Homo sapiens: one gene and its partners. The protein of the gene in region 1 purifies or fractionates together with the protein of each later gene. This does not show direct contact. Each region holds a gene or a part of one and is shown in the gene's direction. Other genes may lie near its edges.

What was found.
Region 2: the proteins of SLC19A2 (region 1) and SCAMP1 purify together in Homo sapiens (affinity purification with mass spectrometry; one large-scale study listed by BioGRID and IntAct). This does not show direct contact.
Region 3: the proteins of SLC19A2 (region 1) and LMBR1L purify together in Homo sapiens (affinity purification with mass spectrometry; 2 studies listed by BioGRID and IntAct, with this or other methods). This does not show direct contact.
Region 4: the proteins of SLC19A2 (region 1) and TM9SF4 purify together in Homo sapiens (affinity purification with mass spectrometry; one large-scale study listed by BioGRID and IntAct). This does not show direct contact.
Region 5: the proteins of SLC19A2 (region 1) and OSTC purify together in Homo sapiens (affinity purification with mass spectrometry; one large-scale study listed by BioGRID and IntAct). This does not show direct contact.
Region 6: the proteins of SLC19A2 (region 1) and TMEM41A purify together in Homo sapiens (affinity purification with mass spectrometry; one large-scale study listed by BioGRID and IntAct). This does not show direct contact.
Region 7: the proteins of SLC19A2 (region 1) and AGPAT4 purify together in Homo sapiens (affinity purification with mass spectrometry; one large-scale study listed by BioGRID and IntAct). This does not show direct contact.

The regions. Positions count from the first base shown.
Region 1 is NC_000001.11:169,475,763-169,479,954, reverse strand, and holds part of SLC19A2 (thiamine transporter 1), read left to right. Parts: intron 1-2,197; coding exon 2,198-2,800; intron 2,801-4,192. UniProt on the Homo sapiens protein: High-affinity transporter for the intake of thiamine. Mediates H(+)-dependent pyridoxine transport.
Region 2 is NC_000005.10:78,419,398-78,423,589, forward strand, and holds part of SCAMP1 (secretory carrier-associated membrane protein 1), read left to right. Parts: intron 1-2,403; coding exon 2,404-2,563; intron 2,564-4,192. UniProt on the Homo sapiens protein: Functions in post-Golgi recycling pathways. Acts as a recycling carrier to the cell surface.
Region 3 is NC_000012.12:49,100,446-49,104,637, reverse strand, and holds part of LMBR1L (protein LMBR1L), read left to right. Parts: intron 1-86; coding exon 87-190; exon of another isoform or gene 191-824; coding exon 825-951; intron 952-1,478; coding exon 1,479-1,547; intron 1,548-1,686; coding exon 1,687-1,751; intron 1,752-2,097; coding exon 2,098-2,170; intron 2,171-2,261; coding exon 2,262-2,345; intron 2,346-2,441; coding exon 2,442-2,518; intron 2,519-3,088; coding exon 3,089-3,166; exon of another isoform or gene 3,167-3,187; intron 3,188-3,314; coding exon 3,315-3,388; coding exon of another isoform or gene 3,389-3,469; exon of another isoform or gene 3,470-3,628; intron 3,629-3,991; coding exon 3,992-4,082; intron 4,083-4,183; coding exon 4,184-4,192. UniProt on the Homo sapiens protein: Plays an essential role in lymphocyte development by negatively regulating the canonical Wnt signaling pathway.
Region 4 is NC_000020.11:32,161,189-32,164,901, forward strand, and holds part of TM9SF4 (transmembrane 9 superfamily member 4 isoform 1 precursor), read left to right. Parts: intron 1-87; coding exon 88-177; intron 178-3,713. UniProt on the Homo sapiens protein: Associates with proteins harboring glycine-rich transmembrane domains and ensures their efficient localization to the cell surface.
Region 5 is NC_000004.12:108,653,394-108,657,585, forward strand, and holds part of OSTC (oligosaccharyltransferase complex subunit OSTC), read left to right. Parts: intron 1-2,170; coding exon 2,171-2,264; intron 2,265-4,056; coding exon 4,057-4,192. UniProt on the Homo sapiens protein: Subunit of STT3A-containing oligosaccharyl transferase (OST-A) complex that catalyzes the initial transfer of a defined glycan (Glc(3)Man(9)GlcNAc(2) in eukaryotes) from the lipid carrier dolichol-pyrophosphate to an asparagine residue within an Asn-X-Ser/Thr consensus motif in nascent polypeptide chains, the first step in protein N-glycosylation.
Region 6 is NC_000003.12:185,492,324-185,496,482, reverse strand, and holds part of TMEM41A (transmembrane protein 41A precursor), read left to right. Parts: intron 1-1,167; coding exon 1,168-1,329; intron 1,330-1,721; coding exon 1,722-1,860; intron 1,861-4,159.
Region 7 is NC_000006.12:161,263,629-161,267,820, reverse strand, and holds part of AGPAT4 (1-acyl-sn-glycerol-3-phosphate acyltransferase delta), read left to right. Parts: intron 1-4,192. UniProt on the Homo sapiens protein: Converts 1-acyl-sn-glycerol-3-phosphate (lysophosphatidic acid or LPA) into 1,2-diacyl-sn-glycerol-3-phosphate (phosphatidic acid or PA) by incorporating an acyl moiety at the sn-2 position of the glycerol backbone.

The DNA.
Region 1 (4,192 bases):
ACTTTTATAGCTATGCTCTGCACTGGCAAGAGATTTTGCAACAATTTTTTATTGTTTGCCTAAAACCTTAGAACCTTAGCTCATATTAGACTTGAGTGAACTGAGATGTACAGGAAAGATAAAAAGAAAGTTACTATTGGTCTCAGAATGTAAAAGTCTGGGATTAGGTTGCTTCATCACAAAGTATTCAGCCTTTTACCAAAACTACCTTTCAAAAAGCACTTAAAAGTTGAGGCCACTGACAAAAGGAAGGAAAAATCTCCTACAGTGATTGTTGTTGGAAGAATGGGAATGATAGCTCAATTAATTTAGTTAATTCATACTGCCCCAGATGTCCTTGTCAGCTTGTCCTCTAGTCTTCAGACTTTGTGAATAAATCAGGTGGAGTAAGTAATTTACATGTTGTGTCTCATTTACTTTTTGCAACAAACAACCGCCCTTTACTGATAATGGAGATTAAGGCTAAGGGGAACTAAAAGAATGTTGTCTACAATCACACAGCAAGTGATGGAACTGAAATTCCTGTTGGGGTCTTTCTGGTTTAAAGTTTATTTTAAAGATCATTTCTACTATATCCCAATTTTAAAATATGCATTAGAAAGAAAACAGCAAAAACTTCTTTTTTCTATTTAAAAACAAGCAAAAAGAAGGACATAAAAGTTGCCTATATTCCTGCCATCTAGAGAGACTTAATTCTGTCAAGACTGTAGGACACATTGACCATCTTTATTTGTTCCTCTGCCCCAAAAGAAACAAAACTTAAAGTCAGAGAAGCTTAATGAAACAGTAGGATAAAGGCTCCCTATCTTGTGTCTAGAAGTAAGAATTGACAGTGATTCCGTTTTCAAAGCATTTATTGAATAGTATCTTCCAAACAGTATGCTGGCTTTTAGACAGGTTATACAGGTGAATGTAGGGGTCTATCCTTAAAAAGCCTATAAGGCAGTTGTTCTCAACTCTGGCTCATTTAAAACTCTATTGGGAAGTTTTTAGAAAATATCTGTGGCTGGGCATTTTTTTTTTTTAAAGAGACAGAGTCTTGCTCTGTCATACAGACTGGAGTGTAGTGGTGTGATCATAAGTCACTGCAGCCCCAAACTCCTGGGCTCAAGCAATTCTCCCACCTCAGCCTCCTGAGTAGCAGCCATAGGCATGTGCCACAACGCTTGGCTAACACATTTTTTTAAAGCTTCTTAGGAGATGCAGCCATGGTGAAGAGCCAGTATTATGAATTAATTGGGGAAACTGATGCATATAGATCAGTATTAGGAGAGTTTGAGGCTAGGCCAGATGGCTCACATGTCTGTAATCCCAGCAGTTTGGGAGGCTGAGGCTGGTGGATTGCTTTGAGCCCAGGAGTTTGAGACCAGCCTGGGTAACGTGGTGAAACCCTATCTCTACCAAAAAAAAAAAAAAAAAAAAAAAAAAAAATTAGCTGGTTGTGGTAGTACAGGCCTGTAGTCCCAGCTACTGGGGAGGCTGAGGTGGAAGGATCACCTGAGCCTCACCTGAGGCGGAGGTTGCAGTGAACCATGATTCTGCCACTGCATTCCAGCCTAGGTGACAGAGGGAGACCCTGTCTCAAAAAAACAAAAAACAAAACCAAAAAAAAAAAAAGGGTTTGAATGTTGTAATACAAGTACTTTTGGCTTCCGCAAAGTCTTTCTGAATAAGGAAGTCTTTGAACTAGGCCTTGATTAATGGGAAGAATTTATTAGGAAAAAGATGATGGTATTGGGGATAGGAAAGGATATTTCAGGCTGGGCGAGGTGGCTCACCCTTGTAATCCTAGCGCTTTGGGAGGCTCCTCATTTGAGGTCAGGAGTTTGAGACCAGCCTGGCCAACATGGTGAAACCCCACCTCTACTAAAAATACAAAAATTAGCCAGGCGTGATGGTGGGTCCCTGTAATCTCAGCTATTCGGGAGGCTGAGGCAGGAGAATCACTTGAACCTGGGAGGCAGAGGTTGCAGTGAGCCAAGATCGTACCACTGCACTCCAGCCTGGGCGCAGAACAAGACTCCATCTCAAACAAAAAAGAGAGAAAAGACATTTTCAAAGTTATCTGAACTGCTGTTGTCAAGGTTGAGATCTTTGAGGTATTTGTAGGTTGTTTTTTATGAATAAATTCTTTATGAGTATTCCAGGTCCTTTCATCACTAATGTTTTTTGTTTTTTTTTTTTCTCTTTCTACCAGGTCTTCAATGAAATTTATCCAGTATGGACTTACTCTTACCTGGTGCTACTGTTTCCTGTGTTCCTTGCCACAGACTACCTCCGTTATAAACCTGTTGTTCTACTGCAGGGGCTCAGCCTTATTGTTACATGGTTTATGCTGCTCTATGCCCAGGGACTGCTGGCCATTCAATTTCTAGAATTTTTTTATGGCATCGCCACAGCCACTGAAATTGCCTATTACTCTTATATCTACAGTGTGGTGGACCTGGGCATGTACCAGAAAGTCACAAGTTACTGTCGAAGTGCCACTTTGGTGGGCTTTACAGTGGGCTCTGTCCTAGGGCAAATCCTTGTCTCAGTGGCAGGCTGGTCGCTGTTCAGCCTGAATGTCATCTCTCTTACCTGTGTTTCAGTGGCTTTTGCTGTGGCCTGGTTTTTACCTATGCCACAGAAGAGCCTCTTCTTTCACCACATTCCTTCTACCTGCCAGAGAGTGAATGGCATCAAGGTACAAAATGGTGGCATTGTTACTGACACCCCAGCTTCTAACCACCTTCCTGGCTGGGAGGACATTGAGTCAAAAATCCCTCTAAATATGGAGGAGCCTCCCGTGGAGGAACCGGTAAGCTCAGCCTTAAATATCTTGTAATTGCTACTATGGGGGCTGGACCCGTGGTGAAAAAAACAGCAAACTCCCTCTTGGTAGATCTTGTATTTATTTGGATTCATGTTTTATCCTGAGTTGGTTTATTGCTTTATTCATTCATTCATTCATTCATTCAAGCTATGGTTTATTTATATTAGGGATGACACATTTATTTTTTCCTGGAGTGCGTGACCTCCAAAGTCAGACTGATACAGCATTATATTGTTCATGTCAGAGATGCCTTGGATTGCAAGGGCTGTGTCTTCATCTTTTGAGTGTTTGGCATATAAATAAAGCACTCAGAAAATTGTTGCTAAATGAGTAGATGAAATGATTCTAATAAATGATTAAGTATCTACTTCTAGTTTCTGAATTGAAGCCCAAATTATTATTATTATTATTATTATTTTTGAGACAGAGTCTTGCTCTATTGCTGAGGCTGGAGAACAGTGGTGCGATCTCGATTCACTGCAACCTCCGCCTCCAGAGTTCAAGCAGTTCTCCTGCCCCAGCCTCTCCCTAGTAGCTGGGATTATGGGCGCTCGCCACCACGCCCAGCTAATTTTTGTATTTTAGTAGAGACGGGGTTTCATCATGTGGGCCAGGCTGGTCTCGAACTCCTGACCTCAAGCAGTCCACCAGCCTCAGCCTCCCAAAGTGCTGGGATTACAGGCGTGAGCCACCGCACCCAGTCATGAAGCCCACAGTATTTAAGGGTAAGAAGTTAATTTCCTCTTCTGTGCTAGAAGGGATATCTGTTATTTATTTTTCAAATGACAATTTGCTGAAGTGAAGTAGTAATGAATAATACAGACGAAGAGATCACAAGAGGACAGTTTGAGGTGGTGATGGAATAAATAGTAAAAGTGTGTTATGAAGCTGTCTCTTGGAAGAGAGAGGTATGGCATTAAAATAATTTATCCATCTGTTCTGTCTAGCCAGGAAGATGAATTCCTTTCCCTAGACACCCACCCTTTTTTTTTTTTAAATATTCAAGTGTTTTTTTTGTTTCTATTAGGTTATAAGCTGTGAGGAACAAAGTTAATTCCAGCCACACTGTAGTCTTAGTTTTCCTGGGACATGTTTGGAAATAAGCCTATTAACATTCCAGCTTTGTAGGTGGCCTCAGTCGGACTGAGCTCCATAAGCTTTGTAGGCTGGCTGATAATAAAGAACCATTATGAGTAAAGTCTTTCATTCTCTACTGAGAGTTAACTGAATTGTTTAAATGTGGCATCTAATGTCCTCATTGAAAATTACTCTCTTTTCTCTATCCCCGTTCTTCAGCTCTCAAATTACTACTTGAAATTTAGGTTATCATCCCAGAGAGCCTGGGTAGACTTGTAGAGCCTGGGCAACCCTCATCAT
Region 2 (4,192 bases), on another chromosome or scaffold:
TATTGAAAGTGCTTAATTAATACAGGACATTTTGTTGAACGGAACATTAGAATATACGTTTGGGGCTCTGATGCTTACATCACTTTGAGTATAATAACTCATGGAATACTGAAACAAAATGTCAAGCCGTTAACAGTTTTACTCTGTGTGCACAGACCTCCCACTTACTCTCTGTTTCATTTTTATTCCAAACAGTAGTCTCAGCCTCATTTTGATACCCTGTCAGAAGGGGAGGTAGCTATTGAGGGTTCTCACATGCACAACATCTGGGTTAATGGATAATTTGTAGGGTACATTCTTGATGGAGGAAATTTACTTGTTTTTACTTTATGATTAATGAGACTACCACCCTTCCCTTAATGGATGAGATAATTTTCCTTAAAATCTTTTAGGAGCATTCTTCATGTATGTCAAGTTGTTTTGGAATGTGAGAAGTGTTTCCTAATGGATAGTCTATTTTTAACTCTTCATTAGTATTTTTCGAGATATTCTTGATCTAATATCTTTTGCTGAATCCTCAGTGTCAGTAGTATATATTTTTAATATTAAATGTCTGATTCCATATATGTACATGCTAACCAACTCTTATTTAATCAATATAATATATGCATTTATATTTTATATATGTTTATTTTTTTAAATGGGCAGAAATTGTCCTAGCATTTTATTTTATTTTGAGACAGAGTCTTGCTTTGTTGCCTAGGCTGGAGTGCAATGGCACGATCTTGGTTCACTGCAACCTCCGCTTCCCGGGTTCAAGTGATTCTCGTGCCTCAGCCTCCTGAGTAGCTGGGACTACAGGCACATGCCATCACGCCTGGCTAATTTTTGTATTTTCATCTATACTTGGAATAATTTTCATGAACTTTAAAGTGTAATTATACATATATTTTATCTTTCTTTCAGTGGATTAGGAAATAACCTAATTTGAAAATTGAAATTTAAGTTAGAATGTTCTTAAGGTCTAAAACTTTTTAAGGCAGCTGGATGCTATTTAATGCTGCAGAGTAATAATTTTCTATTTCACAATCTTCAATTCTGTTTTTAAGATCTTAACACAACCACCCTTATTTTGAGGCCAAGGGTTTTGAGTAAATTTATTATGAGCAAGCATTCCTGAGAGTTAAAAATCCTAATGGGACTAGAGTAATGAGTGAGAGTGTCTCTTTTGTGATAGAATTGAATGGGATTTTAAAGTGGGAAAAGCTCCTGCATTTCTATGGCTGAAAAATTGAAGCTTACAGAGGTTGAGTGATTGGCTTAATATTAGATGACTACAACCTAAGTGACTTCATCTGGAGCTCTTTTTAAAAAAAAACAAAAAACAAAACTCTAGAGCTTGTTTACTTATCTGGTGGGTTAGGTAAGAGCAAATTTAGGCATCCCAGAATGTGTGTGTGTATCCTGTTTCATTAATTATTAACTTATTTGATTTGTAAAGAAATCTTAAAGTTTGAGATTTAAAAAACTAGATCCAATAGGTTTTCCCAGTTGTTAATTTTAATTCAAGTAATTTGTTGGCATATTTTTATTGATTTGATAATTTACATTAAACATCATTTTAGCTTATATAAGAATGTACTTACTATAATAAATTCAGCCTGTGAATAAATTTTTAAAAAATCCTTTGAAACAGTTATTAATTACAATGGGTCAAAGTAGTTCTTTAGGATCATGGTATAGTTAGATGTTACTCAGATTTTTTGTTTTTGGTCTGTCAGGGAAAGCAATTATTAACAGCATATGATGAATTTGTCAACATCTATTTGTGTTAACCAAAAGAAAAGCCTGCCACAGTAGCTAAAATGTATCATGTTGTGTGGGGGAGTGAGGAGGGGACTTAATAAATTTAATCCTCTACCAAAACGCAAGTTTTTTTCAGGATTTTACAAATGGACAGCTCTATGAAGTTGAATGAACAATCCTTATACATTGACTATATAGTCACTAGAAATTGCTACTGTATTAGTATTTTTAGTCCAGTGTTTAGTCTGCAGCCCCATTCTGTAAAGATATGGTTTTTCCTCCTAAGTCCTGGGTCTTTTCCTGGCAGACACTGCTTTTCTTCTTGGGCTTCAGATCAAGAGACATCACGTTTCCTTTTCGGGAAGAAGCCCTTAAGGTAGTGCGCCTCTGGTTTAGCTACATCATTGCCTGTGAGGAGGAGAGGGCCAACAGAATTTTTGCCAAACAGTACATGTATTAAGACTCGCTTTCCTGTGTATACTCTGTTTTCAAATCAAATATGTAAGATACAACAGTGTTTTGAAAAATATAAATGGAAACATGGAGTAGAATACATTTGCTCTTAGGAAGTATTTTTTTATTTACAATTTTTTGTTGGATGAATTCATAAATTGAATGTAAATCTTTCTTTTTCTATTTTGTTTTCTGATTCCACAGTCCATGCAGTAACACTGTTTCTAAATATCTTCGGATGCTTGGCTTGGTTTTGTGTTGATTCTGCAAGAGCGGTTGATTTTGGATTGAGTATCCTGTGGTTCTTGCTTTTTACTCCTTGTTCATTTGTCTGTTGGTACAGACCACTTTATGGAGCTTTCAGGTAAAATGTGTGTACTTTAAAATACACTCTTTAAAACCTGTGAAGTAAATAATTCGTAGTATACATTAAAGGGAAAATTGATGCATTTTCATTAAAAAATTCTTGTATTGTTGTGTAACATACCTTCAGGAAAGTTCAATATAGCATGCCTGTGTATTCATTGGATTTTGTAAGTCATAAAATTCCATTTTTTTCTCCCATTTGATAAAAGACCAAACATGAAAATTGATGGAAAAATAAGAACAGTCTTAGAAGTTAATATTTATAAAATATTCTCTTCCATATGTTATACTTCAAGGAAAATTTTGCTGTTTGCCCACCCCACCTCCCAAATCAAAATCCCAATTGGTGCTTATGGTTTTTTTTTTTTTAAATTAACCTAAGTAAGGTAAATATACATGCAATATTTAAAATGAGCCATTTGCACCTAGCAACTTGGATTATTTTCTTTATAAATCCATTTTAGGTTTTTTCAAAGGCAGCACCATTTTAAAAACGATTTATGCTACTAGGTTAAGTATAATGCTTTACATAGTATATTTTAATCAGTGGTTAGGGTTAACATTTCCTTAGCGCATGTTCTGTGGGATATTAATAGGTGCTGGGGGAGAAAAAAAGAGCTCATAAGCTTAGTAAATTTGGGAACAGCTGGATAATAAGGTTAAGCAAGTTTCTTCATTTCAGGATTTCTTACACTCTTTAAGTACCTAGTATGATTTGTGCCTTATGACTTGACCATGCAACCATTATTTTTCTGTGGAGTACTTTGTTGGACTATTGCTTTAAGAAGTATTGGGAAATACTGATTGAAATGATAGTCCTATATGGGTTCATATATTTAATAGTTTTTTTAAACTCATTTTTATTTGAGTAAATTCTTGTGAATAACCATTTCAACTCTCGTGAATAAGGGGTAACATTACTAGGATATATGCGTGTGTTGTTTAAAGGATATATTAGGGAAATTAGAGGCCCACATTTAAGTGTTCAGTATGTTTTGCCATTGCAACCTAAAATCTCTTTAGTTAACCAGAATGTGTAACACACGCGCGCGCGCACACACACACACACACACACACACACACACACACAGAGTTAGAAACCCAGATCTGTAAACAGATGAGGGAAAAACAGAAGAGAACAGGAGATGGGAGAACATTAGGGAATTTGGAGAGAAAATGTATCAGACAATGAAGAAGTAAATTATTACTTAGAAATGGCATAAAGAGAAGAAATGATGAGAGGAGGAGTGAAGGGAAGAAATGATGGGAGAAGGGAAAGGAGAAAAGAACCTTTGGATACATTGAAATATGGGAGATTGGTTGCCAAGGAACGGGGAGAGCTTCTCCTGTAGAGATGGGTTGGAGAGGAATGAAAGGAACATAGTTACTCCTTGCATGATCTGAGTTATTGCTGTTATTTTCTTCGTTATCTAAGCATGGCTCACAAGGCTTTTTCTGTTTTTTGTTAGTTTGTTTTGTTTTGTTTTTTTTGGACATCTAACCTCTGCCTAATGACCTCCATCACATTACCAATATGTTATCGATCTGTGATGATGCTGGCTGGTGGGAGTGAGGATATCTTTATGAAACTTTTCAAAAAAGTGACCTGAGACTAGGGAATTTGGAT
Region 3 (4,192 bases), on another chromosome or scaffold:
CACTCTGCTTCTCCTGCAAATGGTCAGTCTCCTGTGGGTTGCCCCTCCCCTTACTGACCACTTCTGCTCTTCCTTTTTTGCTCTAGGCCTCTGGAACCTTGTTTTTCTCTTCTCCAACCTGTCCCTCATCTTCCTCATGCCCTTTGCATATTTCTTCACTGAGTCTGAGGGCTTTGCTGGCTCCAGAAAGGTAAGTAGGGGATATGTATCCAGGCAGGAAACGGAATTCCACACACATGGTTCAGCTGAAGAGATTTTAATAAAGAGGCTATTTGCAGAGGTTTAGTTAACGGAAGTTTGAGGCTCTAGTGACAGTAGGAAGTCATTACCACCCTTAGGCCTGTAGGGACAAAGGGAGGAAATGGTTTCTAGAACCCACTAATAGCTGAAGCCAGGGATGTGAAGCTGCCCAGAGAGGAGCTGTTGTCTTAGTGTCATAATCACTGCCAAAACCATGGTGGCAGACGTGGGAGGACTCACAGGAAACATACCCTCACCTTTTTTCTACCTTCCATTCTCCTGTTGGATGCGAAACCAGAGGGCAAAGAGCTTGTGGGATGCAGACCTCGGAGGTCAGCCTCCCAGAGCACACAATGACAAGGAATAGGTCTGGGGAAAGGAGATGCAAATGAAGAACACCTGGTATGTGGGGTGACCTTAGACTGGGGAGTGGGAAGACAGAGCAACTTAGCAGAATAAGAGGAAAACCCTCTCTCTTACCTCCTGAATCCAAACCTTTCTGGTTCCTGCAGGCTGCCTGCCATCTCCAATGTTCCCACACTGCCCTGATGTTAACCTTCTTCACTGGTTGCCTCCTCCCGTAGGGTGTCCTGGGCCGGGTCTATGAGACAGTGGTGATGTTGATGCTCCTCACTCTGCTGGTGCTAGGTATGGTGTGGGTGGCATCAGCCATTGTGGACAAGAACAAGGCCAACAGAGAGTCACTCTATGGTGAGCGGCCCAGCTTCCTCCAGGCTGCATGGCTTTTCAGTTGGCCCATGTCCCCCTGCCTGGAATGACTGTAACCTTCTAAAGTGGAAAATGTTGGCACCTTCTCCCTTAGACTGAAGTTTCAAACTGATAGACATCTGGCCAAATGCAATCTGCAGAAATGTTTCATTGGGCCCATGCAATGGTTTTAAAAATATATATTATTCAGTTGCTAACATTTTAAATTGGGAGGTTTCACATTAATATCCAGATATCTAACTTTGTTTGACAAGGAGAAGATCTGGCTACATTAGTCCCTGGTGATGGGGGCCAAATAGCAGTTGTACCCTTTAGTTAGGGGTTAGGATCTCCAGTTTACTATAGGCCCTGCCACTCCCTATTCTGCTAATGCTGGCCAGCTTTCTTCATTTGTATTAATTGCCTAACCCCTGTGGGGACTGTGCCCTTGTCTAGACTCTGAGGCCTGTCAGCCTGGGGACAGTAAGTAAGGAGAGATGAGCTGACATGCCTCTTTTTTTTATCCTTAGACTTTTGGGAGTACTATCTCCCCTACCTCTACTCATGCATCTCCTTCCTTGGGGTTCTGCTGCTCCTGGGTGAGTGTACAGGGTCTGGGAGGGAATGGGCAGGGTCCTTGGACCAGAGTAACCAGGCTAGAAGGAAAGGGAATGGGGGGCATGTTAGGGAAGGGGTGGAGAGCAGGGTCTGGCAAGTGACTGGCTCTTGTCCCTACAGTGTGTACTCCACTGGGTCTCGCCCGCATGTTCTCCGTCACTGGGAAGCTGCTAGTCAAGCCCCGGGTATGTGGTATTCCTTGCTCTTTGATCCTGCAGGGTGAGCTTCCTGCAGAGCTGGAACCAAACAATGAAACAACCCTATGGTTGTGTAGTACACAACTTGCAGAGAGCTACAGCCTTTGTTGGTTCCTGTATTCTGTACCCCTATCATGCAGAGCTGGTCACTAGACATGCAGGGCAGAATACAGGGCAATTGGGAGGGACTGAGCAAAGCTGCGGGCCACAGGGTGGTGAATGAGGGTCTGGGGGAAGCCTGGGACTACGGAGCCCTGGGAAGAACAGGGTTCTCCTGGGGCCTTTGGGTCAGGGAGCCTCTGACAGTTAGTCTCTTCCTTTCCCCTGCCCCTAGCTGCTGGAAGACCTGGAGGAGCAGCTGTACTGCTCAGCCTTTGAGGAGGCAGCCCTGACCCGCAGGATCTGTAGTAAGTTGCAGTTCTTCCCTGCTGGGGTGGTAGGCTTGGCCTGGGCAGAAACTGCAGGACTTGAGAGCAACACCATCTTCTCTGCCCTCAGATCCTACTTCCTGCTGGCTGCCTTTAGACATGGAGCTGCTACACAGACAGGTCCTGGCTCTGCAGACACAGAGGGTCCTGCTGGGTATGTGGCTTCGTAGGGCTTGGGATACCTGGGTTTCCCCAAGGAGAGTAGCCCCTGGTTCCAGGTGCTTGCTGACAGCCTCCCATCCCTGCACAGAGAAGAGGCGGAAGGCTTCAGCCTGGCAACGGAACCTGGGCTACCCCCTGGCTATGCTGTGCTTGCTGGTGCTGACGGTAGGTATACCAGCCCTAGAGGTGAGGAGTGGACCCTCAGTACTTGAGGCCTTCTCAGGGAGAGGGGAGGCAATGCAGGGACCTGGTTATCATCAGTAATAGTGGTTGCTTCTCACTGAGTGCCTACTTTTATGTCCTGCCTGTGGTGAGCACAAATGTTGAGCACATCAATCCCCATTTTGTAGACGAAGAGACAGAGTTGAGTGACTTGCCCAAAGACACAGGGCCAGTGAGGAGTTGTGCAGGTTTGCCCTGGCATTAAAATAATAAACATTGAAATTCAGTCGATTCCCCTATGGACTCAGTTATAGATCTCATCAGTTGAAGGAAGAGAGATGCCTTTTCCTATTCAGCCTTTTTGCAATCCTTCCATCTAGAGGAGATGTATCTTATAATATCCTCAAAGGCACTCTGTTGCTAATAGCAGCCTTGATGAGGTCCCATATAGCTCATTGGAAGCAGAGCTAGTCTTGGAAACTGAAAATGTTGGACCAGAGTCTGCCCATTCCTTTAGCTCTGGGTCCAGCTGTGGTCTGGGGTGGAATGGGAGTCTGACCTTGCCTCACACAGGGCCTGTCTGTGCTCATTGTGGCCATCCACATCCTGGAGCTGCTCATCGATGAGGCTGCCATGCCCCGAGGCATGCAGGTACCAGGCTGCCCTCCCACCATATCCTTTGGGGAGGGCCTAAGAACAGCTGGGGAGAGGAGGCAGAAGCTGAGGACAGTGGGAAGGCTGGGTGCCGGGTAGTGCTGATGGTGGGGAATGCTCACAGTGATACTGCCCCACTCCTCAGGGTACCTCCTTAGGCCAGGTCTCCTTCTCCAAGCTGGGCTCCTTTGGTGCCGTCATTCAGGTTGTACTCATCTTGTATCCTTCTGGAAACCCATCATTGCCTCTGTTCAGCAAACCTGTCTCCTGGGACTCTAGACCGAGCACTTCTTGGACTTTGTCTCCTTTGGGACTCTGAGCAACGCTGATGGGAAGTGGGGCAAGTTTTCATCAACCTCAGGTTCAGAAAGAAGGAAAAGACTTAATTTGAAAGGAGGGCTGGTGGTTCAGTAGAATCTGATCAGAAGAAAATAAAAAGAGGCCAGGTGCAGTGGCTCACACCTGTAATCCTAGCACTTTGGGAGGCTGAGGCGGGTAGATTGCTTGAGTTTAGGATTTCAAGACCAGCCTGAGCAACATGGTGAAACCCGGCCTCTACAAAAAGTACAAAAAATTAGCCAGACGTGGTGGTGCGTGCTTGCATTCCCAGCTACGTGGGAGGCTGACGTGGGAAGATCGCTTAAGCCCAGAAGGTCAAGGTTGCAGTGAGCTGAAATCGCACCACTGCACTCCAGCCTGGGTGACAAAGTGAGACCCTGTCTCAAAAAAAAAAAAAGAAGTGGGCTGGGAGAGAGCTCTGTTCCCTTTGAGATGAGTTATTAATTCTTGGAGCCAGCCAGTTCTTCCTTAATGCAGTGGCAGTTACCTAATGGTGTCCTCAGTTGTGGGCTTCTATAGCTCTCCACTCTTCCGGAGCCTGCGGCCCAGATGGCACGACACTGCCATGACGCAGGTAGCTGGGAGGGAGTAAGGGAAGCTCCCGGGGGGTGTGGATGGGCACTAGGTGCCTGCAGCTCTTCCACCCTCACCTCTCCTTTCCCTGCTTCCACCCAGATAATTGGG
Region 4 (3,713 bases), on another chromosome or scaffold:
AGTCTTCAGCCCCTCAAGCAACTGTGAAATTGGTAGGAAGGGGTTCTGCCCCAGGACAACACTGACCTTCCTCTGTTTCCTCCTCAGGATTACCGCTGGTGGTGGAGAAATTTCCTAGTCTCCGGGGGCTCTGCATTCTACGTCCTGGTTTATGCCATCTTTTATTTCGTTAACAAGGTACTGCCCTCCTTGAGGAGGTCCTCTTAGTCCTCATAGGGTAGGAAGGTCAGGAGGAGGATGCTGGGAGAAAAACCCAAGTGCCTGAATCTTCCTTTTCCACCCAGAATGGGGAGGACCAAAGCCACCTAGAACTGTTCCTGCTCTAGAAGATGGATCTTTTTAGGAAAGAAAGAATCTGTATTCTGTATGTTTGGGAGACAAAGGCCATCAGGATACGTGACAATGTGAATAATGCTTGTAAAACTTACGAGGTATAGCCATAGCCAAAGCAGGACTTGAAAGCAATATGTCACCTGCAGTGCTCTTCACAGGAAATAAGAGGGACTAATAACACCTTGAGAAAAAGGAAAAGATAAGAGTAACATGAAAGAAGAAAAGTAGAAAGGAGTTAATAAAGATAAAAGCACAAAATGCTGAAATAGTCTAAATAGTAGAACCCAAATTTAGGGCTGCAGGTATCCTGTCTCTGCAGGTGTTCTCTTCTTCACGCAAGTACTGTTCAATCCTGCAGAGTAAGGAGAGGATGGGAAAGTTTTTCACAGGCACCTCGGAGCCCTCCTAACTCTGTGACCCCACATAGGTAAAGTGTGGCCCAATAATAAGAGGGAGCCAGGCTTACCTGACTAGGGCAACTCACAGAGCTCATTGTCCCGAGAGAGAGACGTGGGCAAGAATACAGATGTCCCCACGACAGTTTTACTAGATTCATTCATGATACACAAACCAGATGAGCCATTGAGAGGAATTTGGAGGAGCCCTGTTGGGCCCCTCACCTCCAAAACTAATACTCAAGACTTACTCTGACCTGCTGTACTTTGGGTCTCCAGAGCCCAGAAGCAAGCAGTCCTCTGTGGCAGTCAGGCGTATTTGCAAAATAGAGTTGTAGGTCAGTTGATCGAAGCTGGGAATGCCGTTTCCCAAAAACAGTCAAGTTGGAAAAGACTGGAAGGATCATTTAGTGTAGTGCTGTACCCCTACCTCCAGTCTGGTGACTGTGCCCCTCTTCTCTAACAGTCTCAACAGATGATTCTCTAGCTCAGGGGTCAGCAAACTGCAGCCCGCGTGGGCCAGCAGGCCTGTTTCTATAAATTTTTATTGGAACACAGCCATGGTCATTCATTAACATATCTGTCCATGGCTGCTTTCACACTACAATGGCAGAGTTGAGTAGTTGCGACAGGGACCATATGGCCTGCAGAAACTAAAATATTTACAATCTGGCCCTCTAAGTAAAAGATTGCAGACCCCTGCTCTACTACATCCAGCAACAGAGAAGACACTCCCTCCTAACATTCCCATTCTTTCTGGACAGCTCCTGTCATTATCAAGGTCTTGATTCACACTGCAGTCTCCCTTGCTGTGACTTCCATCTTTAGACCTTAGTCTTAATTCTGGGATCATCTAGAACAAATCTAATCTCCCTCCTCTATAGCCCATATTAATCATAACTCTCATAAGTGGCAAGTGACTAAAACTCTATCAAAGTAGCTTAAGCAAAAAAAAAGGGAAAAAAAGTAGCTTAAGCAAAAAGAATGTATTTGCTTATATAACTGGAAAGACTAAGAAATTGGAGTTCTAGCCTCAACCATGCTTAGATCCAGAGTCTCAAAAATATCAGGGCTCAATCCCAGCACTTCGGGAGGCCGAGGAGGGTGGATCACAGGGTCAAGAGATCGAGTCCATCCTGGCCAACATGGTGAAACCCTGTCTCTACTGAGATACAAAAAATTAGCCGGGCGTGGTGGTGCACGTCTGTAGTCCCAGCTACTCAGGAGGCTGAGGCAAGGGAATCGCTTGAACCCTGGAGGCAGAGGTTGCAGTGAGCCAAGATCGTGCCACTGCACTCTAGCCTGGGTGACAGAGCAAGACTCCATCTCAAAAAAAAAAAAAAAAAAAAAAAATATATATATATATATATATATATATATGTATGTATGTATGTATGTACACATACATACCAGGGCTCTGTGCCCACGCCTTAGCCCTGTGTATCTTTTTTTGGCCTCAGTCTGCAGGCAAGATCTTTTCACAAAGTAGAAAGATGGCCAGTGGCAGCCCTAGAGTCTACTCTTTCCAGCTTTGCAGCCCTAGAGCTAAAAGACTGTCTTTCGTCTACCATGATACGTCAGCCAGTGAAGACACGCTGCTCTGCTCGGGTGACATGCCCAGTGCTCACTGTTTTCCAGGTCCAATAGCATCACATATTCAGACAGACTGGCTTAGGTCTTGTGCTAGGAATTTTTTTTTTTTTTTTTTTTTTTGAGATGGAGACTCGCTCTGTTGCCCAGGCTGGAGTGCAGTGGTGCGATCTTGGCTCGCTGCAGCCTCTGCCTCCCGGGTTCCAGCGATTCTCCTGCCTCTGCCTCCTGAGTAGCTGGGGTTACAGGTGCACACCACCACGCCCGGCTAATTTTGTGTTTTTAGCAGAGACAGGGTTTCTCCATGTTGGCCAGGCTGGTCTTGAACTCCTGACCTCATGTGATCCGTCTGCCTCAGCCTCCCAAAGTGCTGGGATTACAGGCGTGAGCCACCGCACCTGGCCTATTTTGTGCTAGGATTGATGGCCCCAACAGGACCAGGTGTTTTGAGTGTTCCTCAAAACATCTGGAATATGGAAGACAAGGAACACGGTTAAACAAAACTAGAGATCACATCACAGCCTCTTGTCCTTCCTCCCTTCTGCTCCAGTCTTCTTGCTCTGCTCAAAAAATCTCTTCCTCCAGCCCCAATGCCTTATGTATAAAATGAGGAACTTTCTGGCTCTGCCTCTTTGCCTCGTCCCTTGCCTCCTTTTACCACGGTTCTGCTCCTTGTCCCTCCCCCACCCCTCCCCCGACCACCAGCCACAAGAATGCATATAACAAGAGATGGAGGCTGGGTGCATATGGTTCACACCTATAATCCTAGCGTTTTCAGAGGTGGGAGGATAACTTAAGTCCAAGTGTCTGAGACCAGCCTGGGCAATAGAGCAAGACACCATTGCTAGAAAAAATATTAGCTGGGTGTGGTGGCACACACCTATAGTCTGAGCTACTTGGGAGGCTGAGGCAGGAGGATCCCTTGAGCCCAGGAGGGTGAGGCTGTAGTGAGCTGTGATCATGCCACTGTGCTCTAGTCTGGGTAATAGAGGGAGACCCTGTCCCTTTAAAGAAAAGGGGTTAGGGGAGAGATGCGGGGCTGAGCCTGAAAACATGGCCTTCACCCCTTAGGCTTAGGAGAGGGCTTCAAATGGTGACCTATTTTGTTTTCTTTGTTTCTTTACTGTTTTCTTCTGGGCTACTGGCATTCTGTGACCATGTGTCTGCCTGTGAGTCCTGGGACAGGCCCTACTCAGGCCCTGGGCATATCTTGATACCAAGGTTCCACATTAGTTCCCTTTGTAAATAACACAGATCCCCAGCATCTCTGCCCAGCCTCTAAACTCTACCCCAGTTAAAAAGGAGTCCAAAATGCTCCAAGATCAAAATCTCTGTGAGATGCTAACAAAAGTGACAAGCATTCTGGGGAAGAGAGGAATGAATGGAGGCTGAGGC
Region 5 (4,192 bases), on another chromosome or scaffold:
ATGCTAGGCAGAGGGAAACGTAGGGCAAATGTGAGACCAAAAGACCAATTAGGTGGCCTTTGTAGTTGACTTAGACTATACAAGGTTTATGGTAGTGGAGATTAGGATAATATAATGAAAGATATGTTGGAAGTAGATTCAGTAGGTCTTGAATTCACTGGGTGTAGGGGAAGAATGAAGTGGGAAGGAATCTTACAGGTTTCTGGTTTGAGCTCCTGAATAGATGGAAGTATCATTTCCTGAGATTGAGAAAACAAAGTTTTTGGTGGAAAATGGTGCACCAGAGGTTGTTTTGGGGTAAAATTAGTTGGATATGTCACATGTGCAGATGGGAGTCTAGACCTGAGAAAAGAGGCCTGTGTTGAAGTTGGTCAACTAACAGACATTTCTGGAACTCCCATGAGACATTGAAGAGTATAGGCAAAGTCCAAAGTCTCTGTTCTTGAGGAGCTTACATGTAATTCTAATGGTACTGGCATTATTTGAGAGGCCTTGGCACATCACATTGAGAGTCTTTAGCACATGAAATTGAAAGCCCTGGGAGTTCATTTTGGAGAAAAGTAGAAGAGGACAGTGGACCAATCCCTGAGGGCCTCCAACATTTAGTTCTTTTATAAAAGAAGAGGCCCAATAGAGAGGTAGCAAGAAAACATGAAGAGGAGTATCACAAAAGCCATAAGAAGAGGTGTTTTTCAAGAAATTGGTTTAGTAAACTGGATTGAGTGCTTCTGAGAAGTCCCCTAAGATGAGAACTGAAAAGTGTCTATTGAATTTGACAACATGGAGATCATTGGTGACCTTAGAAAGAGCAGTATCAATGGTTGCAGAAGCCAGATTGGATTGAGTTGAAGAATGAAGGGTAAGTAAGAAAGGGGAGATGGCAAGTTTGCCTAAGTCTTCCAGAAGAAAGTCTGACTCCCTTTCAGAAAGCAAAGATAGAAATAGGATGTTAGCTAAGAGGATCTGAAGTCAAGGAGGGTTGATGTAGGGAAGGAGAGCTTGAAAATACAGGAGAGAGGAGAGATATCCAAAGGAATAAAGTCCCTGAGAGTCCAAGTGGGAATGGACTCCTGGTAATTGCAAAAGGGATCCCACATTATAGGAGGTGGGAATCTTCCTCTTTGTAGCTGGAAAGAAGGAGGTGAGGATGGATGCAGGTACCAGGTATTTGTAGATTTGGTGGGGAAAAGACAAGGGAATTCCTATAGGATTGTTTTGTCAGGCTAGGATAAGGGAGATAGGCTTGTTATGCTTAAGAAAAGCTGGAGATGAAGATGTTTGAGAACAGTGGAGAAGGTAGAGTAGATGTTGACAGTGGGAGATTGAGAAAACTATTAGTGCTGATGAACATTAATGTTAATGATCACGATGACATTATGACATAATGGTGGACATTAATGTTAATGATTATGAATCTCTAGTATTGCCATTCTGCCTGATGGCGTGGTTTTAAAATGTCTCCTTGTTTTACATTTAAGCAATTTCTCTAGTTATTTTTCAATTTATAGAAACAAATCTAAGCATATCTGAGACAATTTTTGTGAACCGAAGTAGAGCCTTTAGTTTTAAATCCCCTTTATACTAAAGTCATTCCTGAGTATTAGCAACTCTTATTGGATGAATTTCCTTTATGAAATTTGTACTTCATTTAGATATCATACAGTTTTCAAAGTAATTCTAAAACATTGAGTTGAATGTCTGAATGATTTATCAGAACTTTAGATGAGTTGGGCCACATTTGGTTATAATAATACAATCAAAGCATTCCTATTTAAAAGTAAATGAAACTTGGCCGGGTGCAGTGGCTCACACCTGTAATCCCAGCACTTTGGGAGACTGAGGCAGGTGGATCACCTGAGGTCAGGAGTTCGAGACCAGCCTGACCAATATGGTGAAATCCCGTCTCTACTAAAAATACAAAAATTAGCTGGGCATGGTGGTGGGCGCCTGTAGTCCCAGCTACTTGGGAGGCTGAGGCAGGAGAATTGCTTCAACTTGGGTGGCGGAGTTTGGCAGTAAGCCAAGTGGCGCCACTGCACTCTCAACCTGGGCGACAGAGTGAGACTCTGTCTCAAAAAAAGTAAATGAACCTTAAGAGACAATGAAAACTATAATCCTGTTTTCAAAAATTAGTAATACAATCTAATCTGTTCTGTTGTCTTTCTTATAGGAATAATTTATGATGTTATTGTTGAACCTCCAAGTGTCGGTTCTATGACTGATGAACATGGGCATCAGAGGCCAGTAGCTTTCTTGGCCTACAGGTAAAAGATACCTTTTTGAATGATTTGGTGGTGGGAAAGAAGGTTGCTGTGGTATGCCCACTTATTTAAAAATAGAGTAAAACCTATGGGATCCATGTGTATTTAGACAACAGCTGTTTTAAAATGCTGGATTCTGAAATGGCAGAAAGTGAGTCAAAAACAAGAGTATATTATTTATTTATTAAGAAATAAAGTATTTCATAATGATGTATCACCAATTTACAGTAGGGTGTCAGTTTAAACTACATTTATAGATTGTTCTGGGGGTCAGTGAACTATAGCTGCTTTTTTTTTCTTTTCCCCAAAAAAGTTTTATTGGAAGTAAGTATGCCCATGTGTTTTATATGATCTATGGCTGCTTTTAAGCTAGAGTGGCTGAGCTGAATAAGTATGACACAAACCATATACCCCACAAGCCTAAGATATTTACTATATGGGTATTTAAGAAAATATTTTTGGACTATACCCTGGTCTATACCATTAAATAACAAAAGTATTTTTGAGACTTTGAGGGTTCTGTTTCATCAGTGAAACCCCGTTCCAGTGTGGTTTTGTTCACCTGAACAATGCTTATATTGCTTTCTAAAATTTACTTAATATCTACCAAAACATAGCTATATGTTTATATTTGCAGTAATGCTATTTATGCATAGAATATTTCTGGAAAGATTTATTAGTATTCTCTGTGGAGGGGAGTTAATGACAGGTTGATGGTAGGGTGGCTCTTCATAGTGCCCTCTTTCACACTGTTTGAATTTTGAACTTGGTACATATATTGTGTTTTCAATGAAAACAATTGACCAAAAAAAAAAAAAAATACCCTGTTTACATATGCCTATGTATAATCATCCCTTTAACGAGAAATTTTCTTCTTGAGGTCCTTGAACTATGAGAATTTGATAAAAGCTCTGTATCCCTAGAAAAATCACACACACACACACTTTTACATATAATTAGAGGGGTTTGTAGTTCACTGAAGTTCTTATGGGACCCATGGAGCCTTATTTAAGAACAGTTTCTTTTTAAAATATTTCCATTTGAAACAAGAAGTTTATTATTATTAACATAAAACTTCAAGAAACACATCTAACCAATTCAAAATTAGTTTGAATTGATAGTAGAAATTTAAATAGCATAACTTTTTAAAAAAAGCTAACCTAGACCGGGCGCAGTGGCTCACGCCTGTAATCCCAGCACTTTGGGAGGCCGAGATGGGCGGATCACGAGGTCAGGAGATTGGGACTATCCTGGCTAACCCGGTGAAACCCTGTCTCCCCTAAAAATACAAAAAATTAGCCAGGCGTGGTGGCACGCGCCTGTAGTCCCAGCGATCTGGGAGGTGGAGGTTGCAGTGAGCCGAGATCGTGCCACAGCACTCCAGCCTGGGCGACAGCAAGACTCAATCTCAAAAAAAAAAAAAAGCTAAGCTAAAGTTCTGGGTAAAGCGTTCGTATACATAAAATATGAGTATTTATTTTACATAAACAGTTGTGTTAGTTGAGGTTTTACGACATTTTTTGAATGTGAACTCCATGAAGACAAAGATTTTTGTCTGTTTTATTCATTGTTGTATATCCCCCAGAACCTAAAACAGTGCTTGCTACCTAATAGACTCAATAAATATCTGTTGAATGGACAGATGAATATCCAGAGGTATAGTAAAATAGTTGTAAGGCTAAGAATAAGAAATATAGCACAAAAATGTTTTGGCACAAAAACGGAAATAGGAATTTCAATTTAAGGGAAACATTTCTATTTGTTATCTTTCTATGGTCATTCTTTTCTTTTCCAGAGTAAATGGACAATATATTATGGAAGGACTTGCATCCAGCTTCCTATTTACAATGGGAGGTTTAGGTTTCATAATCCTGGACCGATCGAATGCACCAAATATCCCAAAACTCAATAGATTCCTTCTTCTGTTCATT
Region 6 (4,159 bases), on another chromosome or scaffold:
CTTGAGGCTGCCCTGTGTCTGTCTTCTGTCTTGAACTGATCCCTCTTCAGGGCAGAGAGCCAGCTGCTGCTTGGTGGGGGCTCCACATCCAGACCTGAGGGTGAACCCTGACTCTGCCTGCTGTGCTCTTGGGGAGGATACTTAATCTCTCACCTGTAGAATGGGGCAAGGATGGCATGACTCAGGGATGTAGTGAGGATTACACAGGACATGTAGTCAAGCACTTAACACAGTGCTTAGCGGCTCCCCAGCTTCCCACTTCCAAGGCTTCCTTTTACTTTCTCTCTTGGATCCCATGTTTTGTCAGGATGATGTCTACCAACCAAAATGCATTTAGGAAGTATTGGTTCACTTTTCCCTTTTTCTTAAACCAAGACATCTTCAAATGTCTGCTAGAGCTCTGGTCAACATGGAACCCCGGTATTAACATACTGCATAGATGTAATTCCAGCAAAAAGCAAAGAAACAAGACATCTTACATAGCTTGTGTGGTCTTACCAAGGGAAAATTCATGGTTTGTGTTCATCTTTTGAAATAGTAAAAATAACTCGTGAGTTTCATTTCTACTTTCTTGGAGCCCCAGTCATTGCAGAATCTACCACAGCCACAGATCCCATTTCATTCTCTCCTGCCCCCTGAGGCTTTTATCCTTATCCTCATTTTCAAGGTGAAGAGACTGACGGCAGGTGTAGTTCCCAGCCTTTTCATAATTTTTCATTCACCTCTTTAAATGGCAATTGGGACCTGGGGCAGTGGCTCACGCCTGTAATCCTAGCACTTTGGGAGGCTGAGGTGGGAGGATCACTTGAGTCCGGGAGTTTGAAACCAGCCTGGGCAACACAGTGAGACCCCATCTCCACAAAAAATTTTAAAAAGTGGGTGAATGTGGTGGTGTGTGCCTACAGTCCTAGCTGCTTGGGAGGCTGAGGCAGGAGGATCGCTTGAGTCCAGGAGTTCGAGGATGCAGTGAGCTATGATCATGTCACTGTACTCCAGCCTGGGTGACAGAGCGAGATCCTGTTTCTTAAAAATAAATAAATAACGCAATTGGGTTTTAGCTGGAAAAAAGCAGTGAAGGAGGAGGGAACCTATGACTCTCAGGCTCCAAGATGACGTGCCTGGTAGCTGCCAGATGTTCACATGCCTGAGGGTTTGTTTTATTTGCAGAATGTTTTAGCTGGTGCCTTGTTTGGGCCATGGCTGGGGCTTCTGCTGTGCTGTGTGTTGACCTCGGTGGGTGCCACATGCTGCTACCTGCTCTCCAGTATTTTTGGCAAACAGTTGGTGGTGTCCTACTTTCCTGATAAAGTGGCCCTGCTGCAGAGAAAGGTAAGGGGAGGGGTCACATCTGAGAGCTGGGACCCCAGACAGTCGCTACGTGCATGGCCTTGAGAGAAGCGAGTGGCAGGGATTTCCCACAGTACTCTTCCACGCTGTTTCAGGAGGTCCTAGGGGTTCTTTTGATGTCTTCAGGAGACATAGACCTGGGATCAAATCCCAGCTCCATCATTACCAGCTCTGTGACTTTGGGCAAGTTCTTGACTTCTCTGATCCTCAGCATGTCTATTTTAAAATGAGGAAAACAGTCTTTCCCTGGAGGGTTGTTGGAAGAATTGGGAACAGATTATGTAAAGTGTCTAGAACAGTGCCTGGCACCAGCAGGTTTTCAACACCTGGAGACCCTTTCTGCTTCTTAACAGCTTTCTTCTCTTTGGCTACAGGTGGAGGAGAACAGAAACAGCTTGTTTTTTTTCTTATTGTTTTTGAGACTTTTCCCCATGACACCAAACTGGTTCTTGAACCTCTCGGCCCCAATTCTGAACATTCCCATCGTGCAGTTCTTCTTCTCAGTTCTTATCGGTAAGATGCTAGTGGGGTAGGTTTGAGTCTTCAGAGCTGTCACGCTGGGGGTCTGCCCTGGGTTATTGGCCACGTGAGCATGTGCCTGCTTCTGAGAACACAGGCTCACAAAGTGTGACTTCAAGCCTTATGATCTAAAGAAATGATTCCTGATTTCAGATCTGCTCAGGCTTCAACATGAAAACCCATAAAAATACTTTTGGACTAAATAAAGATTGTCCATTGCATGGCTGTATGCACTAGGCACTGGGATTAGAAGAGATGGTCTGTGTAAAGTATACAAATTGGCCCATAGTAAGTACTCAGTAAATGCTAGCAGGAAGAGCAGGGTTGGAATGAGGGTGTGTGTCCATGAGTTTTGAGTGGGGACAGAAGAAAGGAGCAGAGCAAGGGACTTCCTGTCTGGTTTTTGGCCCCTGTTTTGATTAAGTTCTGCCTTAGGAATTGCTGGCATCAGTGTGGTTCCTTCCTGCCTTTTGACAATTGCACAACCTGCAGCAAGCTACTTACCCTCAATGGACCACCTGGCTAGGAATAGAGCAGTGTTTCTCAAAGTGTGGGCTTTGGGCCACCTTCATCAGATTGTTAGGGTCAGGGGGCTTGTTGAGAATCTAGATTTGGGGCCTACTCCAGACCTACTGAATCAGAATCTTGGGAGTGGAATCTGGGAATATGCATTTTAATCCAGTTCCTAGTCAGTCATTTTCAAACTGCAAACCCAGTCATTCTCAAACTGCAAACCTATTAAGAATCGCCTGCAAACCTATTAAAAATCACTTGGAGGCCGGGCTGAGTGGCTCACACCTGTAATCCCAGCACTTTGGGAGGTTGAGGCGGGTGGATCACTTGAGGTTGGGAGTTCAAGACCAGCCTGGCCAACATGGTGAAACCCCATCTCTACTAAAAATACAAAAATTAGCCTGACATGGTGGTGTGCGTCTGTAATTCAACTACTTGGGAGGCTGAGGCAGGAGAATGGCTTGAACCTGGGAGGCGGAGGTTGCAGTAAGCTGAGAGGATGACACTTCACTCCAGCCTGGGTGACAGAGTGAGGCTCCATCTCAAGAAAAAAAGCAAAAAAACAAAAACAAACAAAACAACAAAACATCACCTGTGGAGATTTTAATCCCTAAGCTAAGGCTACACCACACATCAACTAAATCATCTCTGGGGTAGGACTCAGGGATCAGGATCTTTTAACATTTTCCAGGTGATGCAAGTAGTTAGTCCCTAAAAGGGATTCCGCTGGATCCTGAGTTTTGCAGTCTACTGAATTAGACGATATCTAAAGTTTCTCCTTGCCTTTGACAATTATATGACCTGCAGCGAGCTACTTAGTCTGAACGGGCTACTCGTCCAGATAAGGGGCTGGGACTAGAGCAGTGTTTCTTGAAGTATGGGCCTTGGACCACCTTTATCAGAGTGGTAAAGTGCTAACATCCTATAAAATCAGTGTTTGCTACTTTCTCCATACTGGAAGAAAACCACCCTCCTTAAGCCTAAGGCAAGGATCTCTTCTCTTAAACCTCCCTTAGATCCTAGAGGGAAAGACGATTCAGGGCTTCTAGGTCAAACAGAGCAAATCTGTGGTTGAGCAGCTGCTATTCATAGGAGATACCTGAGAGAAATGGAGATCTTAAATAGAAGCAAGATCTACCACGGCCAATTTTGGTCATATTGGCTTTCAGACAAAGTGCCTCAGGCCCTCAGCTAGTGGGGGTTTGCTGCTTCTAATTACCTAGGTGGCATGAGGCTTGGCAAGATTCTGGAGACCAGGCTTCCTGTCCTCTGTCTCACAAGCTGTGTGACCCTGAGGGGTCTGGGATCTTCATCTCCTGTATACTTCCTCTCCTATAGAAGAGAAATGGACTATCAGAGTGTTCCAAACCAATCGGAATCTCAGGGTGGGAGTGGAGAAGGGGCTTTTAAAATACAGGTTCCTGGGCACTACCCCAGAACCAAGTACCCAGAATTTCTGGGGTGGAGCCCAAGGATGTGGTTTTTTAACAATGTCACCAGCTGATTGTTCTGCAGCCAGCCTGTTCAGCCAGCCAGACTTTTGGAATCCAGTGGATTTGATGACATCTTTGAGACAGTACAGAATGTGAATAGTACTTCTTTTAAAAAACTGTTTGTCAACAATGGCACTTCTCTCTTTACTTTGGCTGTTGGGTACTCAGAACCAAATTTGGGGCCCACTTTTGGCAAACAGGTGAACCTTATGCATTTTTTTACTAACTGTACTCCCTGATGTCTTGTATTCTTCTGCACGCATTTTGCTTTTCCTATTTAAAATTTT
Region 7 (4,192 bases), on another chromosome or scaffold:
GGGCTCAAGCAATCCTCCCGCTTCAGCTTCCCAAGTAGCTGGGACTACAGGTGTGTACTAACATGCCCAGCTAATATTTTTCTTTTCTTTTTTTTTTTGAGACAGAGTTTTGTTCTTGTTGCCCAGGCTGGAGTGCAATGGCGCAGTCTTGGCTCACTGCAACCTCTGCCTCCTGGGTTCAAGCGATTCTCCTGCCTCAGCCTCCTGAGTAGCTGGGACTATAGGGGTGCGCCACCACACCTGGCTAATTTTTTTGCGTGTGTATTTTTAGTAGAGACAGGGTTTCCCCATGTTGGCCAGGCTGGTCTCGAACTCCTGACTTCAAGCAATCTGCCCAGTGTGGCCTCCCAAAGTGCTAGGATTACAGATGTGAGCCACTGCGCCCGTTCCCCAGCTAATATTTTTCAAATAATGAACAAATCTCTACCGTGTAGACCTCTGCATGCCTTTCATCCCAGTTGTTAAGAACAGCAAAATTACTGCAAGAAAGGGTAGTATTTTAGAATTTGGAGAAAAACTAACAGCAGTACTTTATAAGACAAGCTACTATAGTTTTCAGGGAGTGTTGTTTTTATTATGGTTTAGCCAGAGATGGTGGGAGAAGGGAAAGGGCCTTGTGATTAAAACCATCTGAGTGACAATGCAGTACATACATTAAATTAAAGATGAACTCTTCTCAAAACCAATGTGTAACCCAGGATTGAACTTGACTGAGCAGCTGCTCTCAAGGACACCTGTGGTGGCTGCTCTCAGAGTTCCCAAGGCGGTGGGTGGATGGAGTCAGAGGCTTTCTGTTCTTCAGTGGACTTTCCACAAATCCACCACGGGGTTTAAAGGCAGATTATTATCTGCAAAGACCCTGCCAGTGCTTATCTTAGATCAACTCTGAAATGAGAATGGGAGACTTGAATTGATCCTGGAGTGAAATTTGGTCTCTTGCCCATCTCCATGGGCTCCTCGTGAGCTGTCAGTCTTCTGTGGGTAGAGGTTAACCGAGGCGGATGAAATTTTAAAGAACTATCTGTCTATGCAAGCACATCTTCTTCCCAGGATACTGCAGCCATCAGCAGACAATCAATGCAATCATCTCAGACTGTGTCCTGCGTCCCAGGAGTAAGTCATCAGGCTCATTTCTTTTCTTGTCTCTTTTCTGCTGGGGGAAGGGCAGGTTGCAAGGCGGATGGTGAGCAGATTCTTCGGCCTTTTGTGTGGGTAGCCTGCATAGGAACCATTTCTATGCCTGTGAGTCCATTTCTAGCATCTGCCTCCAGCCTCTGCTTTCCTGACGCTCTCCCATCACCCCATTCACCCTTCATAAAACAGTCACTCTTTCTAGATGCATAATTACATGCCATGACAATGATTACAGTCCTCTCTTCATAACTGCACTGGGTGCTCATTCATGGCATGGAGGTATGATCGCATCGTTTGTAGCATAGAGCAGAGTACCCAGCACTGAATATGTGTTGTGGCCTAGAGAAGAGATGGGCACAAGAAGTCAGGTCATCAGGGTTGCCTCATCGCTGGCCTCCTGGCCAGGGCCTCAAGGGTGACATTCCTTGAGGGCGAGGTGTTTCTCAATCTCGATGTTGAGATTTTGGGCCCATTAATCCTTTATTGTGGAAGAGGCCAACCTGTGCAGAATCGGATGCTCAGCCACATTCCTGGCCTCTAACTGTTACATGCCAGGAGTAGTCACCCCACTCCTACTTGTGACAGCCAAAAATCCCCTAGAGGGACAAACTTGCCCACAGCTGAGAACCACTGCTTGAGGGGGAATTCCCGGCTCTGTCAGGTACACTCAGGAATCCGGTTGGTCCGATCAAAGCAAACCCATTTCTGAGGACTAATAGGGTCCTAACCAAAGTGGCAATTCATTAATTTAAATGAAGAAATACTTTACATGGGAATTGAAAAATAATAGTAAACCAACTTAAAAGTAGACACGTGGCCGTAAAGTATTCAAATATTTAGTGCTTTCTGCCCTGATAAGTCTGCGTGGGGGTCATGCTGGCACCAAGGCAGCCCGGTGCAGTGAGGAAATGGGCCAGGCTCGGTGGCCTGATAGGACCCCTTCCACACCCAGATCTGTGCAGACAGGCCCTCCTCGTTCCCCTCCCCACCCACCAGCTAAGGGAGCCTCCTTTTCCAAACCTCTCTGGAGTGAACAGATTAACATATCTCAAGAACAAATTGAGAGAGGCACTCACAAACCTGCTCCCACCTGGGGATTTCATTACTGTTTCCTTGACCTTCACAGTGAGTGCTGCGCCCCTGCAGTCCAGCAGTGGGTACTAATCCAGCACCCAGTCCAGCAGTGGGTACTAATCAGCACCCAGTCCAGCGGTGGGTACTAATCCAGCACCCAGTCCAGCGGTGGGTACTAGTCAGCACCCAGTCCAGCGGTGGGTACTAATCCAGCACCCAGTCCAGCGGTGGGTACTAGTCAGCACCCAGTCCAGCGGTGGGTACTAATCAGCACCCAGTCCAGCGGTGGGTACTAATCCAGCACCCAGTCCAGCGGTGGGTACTAATCAGCACCCAGTCCAGCGGTGGGTACTAATCCAGCACCCAGTCCAGCGGTGGGTACTAATCAGCACCCAGTCCAGCGGTGGGTACTAATCCAGCACCCAGTCCAGCGGTGGGTACTAATCAGCACCCAGTCCAGCGGTGGGTACTAATCCAGCACCCAGTCCAGCAGTGGGTACTAATCCACCACCCAGTCCAGCAGTGGGTACTAGTCCACCAACCAGGTCTCACTAGTATTAATTTGCCTCCTAGCATCCATCCCCACAGTTGCTGGTATTTCAAGCCTTTCTTTCCCTTTCCGTCCCTGGTGCTTCTCACTTACAGGAGGGGCCACCTTTACTTCCTTCCCAGGACCAGCACCCTGCCCTGCCTGAAGTTAGGCTTCAGCTCCCCAGCCCTGGGGGACTCTAGGGGTCCCATAACTAGTCCTGGGTGACCCTAGGGGTTCCATAACTGCTGTGTCCCTCCCTTTTATCTTCCCATCTCGCTTCTCCCTTCTCGCTTTCAGGCTCTCAAAGGTCAACAGAAGTGGGGTCAGTTATTCCAACTCCCCACCCAACTCCAGAATCCCCTTTCAGCGTTTCTTAGGGAGCCCGTGCATTCAGCCCGCAGGAATACAAAGAGGGAGCCGACCCTGCAAGTGCCTTTGAGGAGCCTGCTGCCCAGAGGGCAAGACGGAAGCCTCAGCGAGGGGTTCCCACGCAGTGGATAAGACTTGCAGGGCAGGGATGCGCGGGCACGCCAGGGGGACCACCTCACCACCCCTGCCCAGTCTGGGCTTCCTAAAATACTTCCTAGAGAAGAACAGCCCCCACGTTAGGTCTGGAAGTGGGGAGTATTGGTCCCAGTGTGCACGCTTCTCACGGAGTGCCAGAGACCAGAGGAGTGGGCCAGTGGGTGAGGTGGGACAGGGCAGGAGGCTGGAGTTTTCCTAGACCACAGAGGAATGAGGTGGGCTGGCGTGGCAGGAAGCAGAGAGAGGCTGAGCATCCTGCAGCTCTGGGAGGGGAGGCCCAGAAGAGGCACAGGTCTGAAAGCCAGGAGGGTTTGGTAACTTGTTGTATGGAGGGTGTCTTTGACGCCCTGAGATAGTAAATATAGGGAGAAAGAAGGTCACTTTCCAATCATATTCTTCCCAAATGGTCACTTATCATATTACACCTTATAAGGTGATCATTTATGTACTTTGTAATCAACATGTGTTACGCAGCACTTACTAGAAGCTGTCTGCTTTGTATAACACCTCATTTCAGCTTGCCCCCAGCCCTGTGGGTTGCCAATTATTTTCTCTAATCTAATTTGAAACTGAGGCACAGAGAGGTTAACTAACCCTCCCAAAGCCACAGAGCTAGCAATGCCTGAGCACACTGTGATTTTACTAAATATTGTAACAGAATTACATGGACTTGCATTTCATATTCTTGCCTTTCCTGAAATTTTCCTGAATTTTCTTTTAGGGTGAAAAGACTTCCCATTGTTTCAAAATGTGCAGAAACTTCCCATCACAGCCCCCCAAATCATGTGGAAATCTGGAAGTTACTTAAGACCAGATGATGTAATGAAGATGTTGTGGGGGTCACTGAAATCCTCATTTGGACTCCATCTCTAGAGGAATAATAGGGTTAAAGTTTGAGAGGAGGTCGGGGGAGAGGACCAGAGAGAT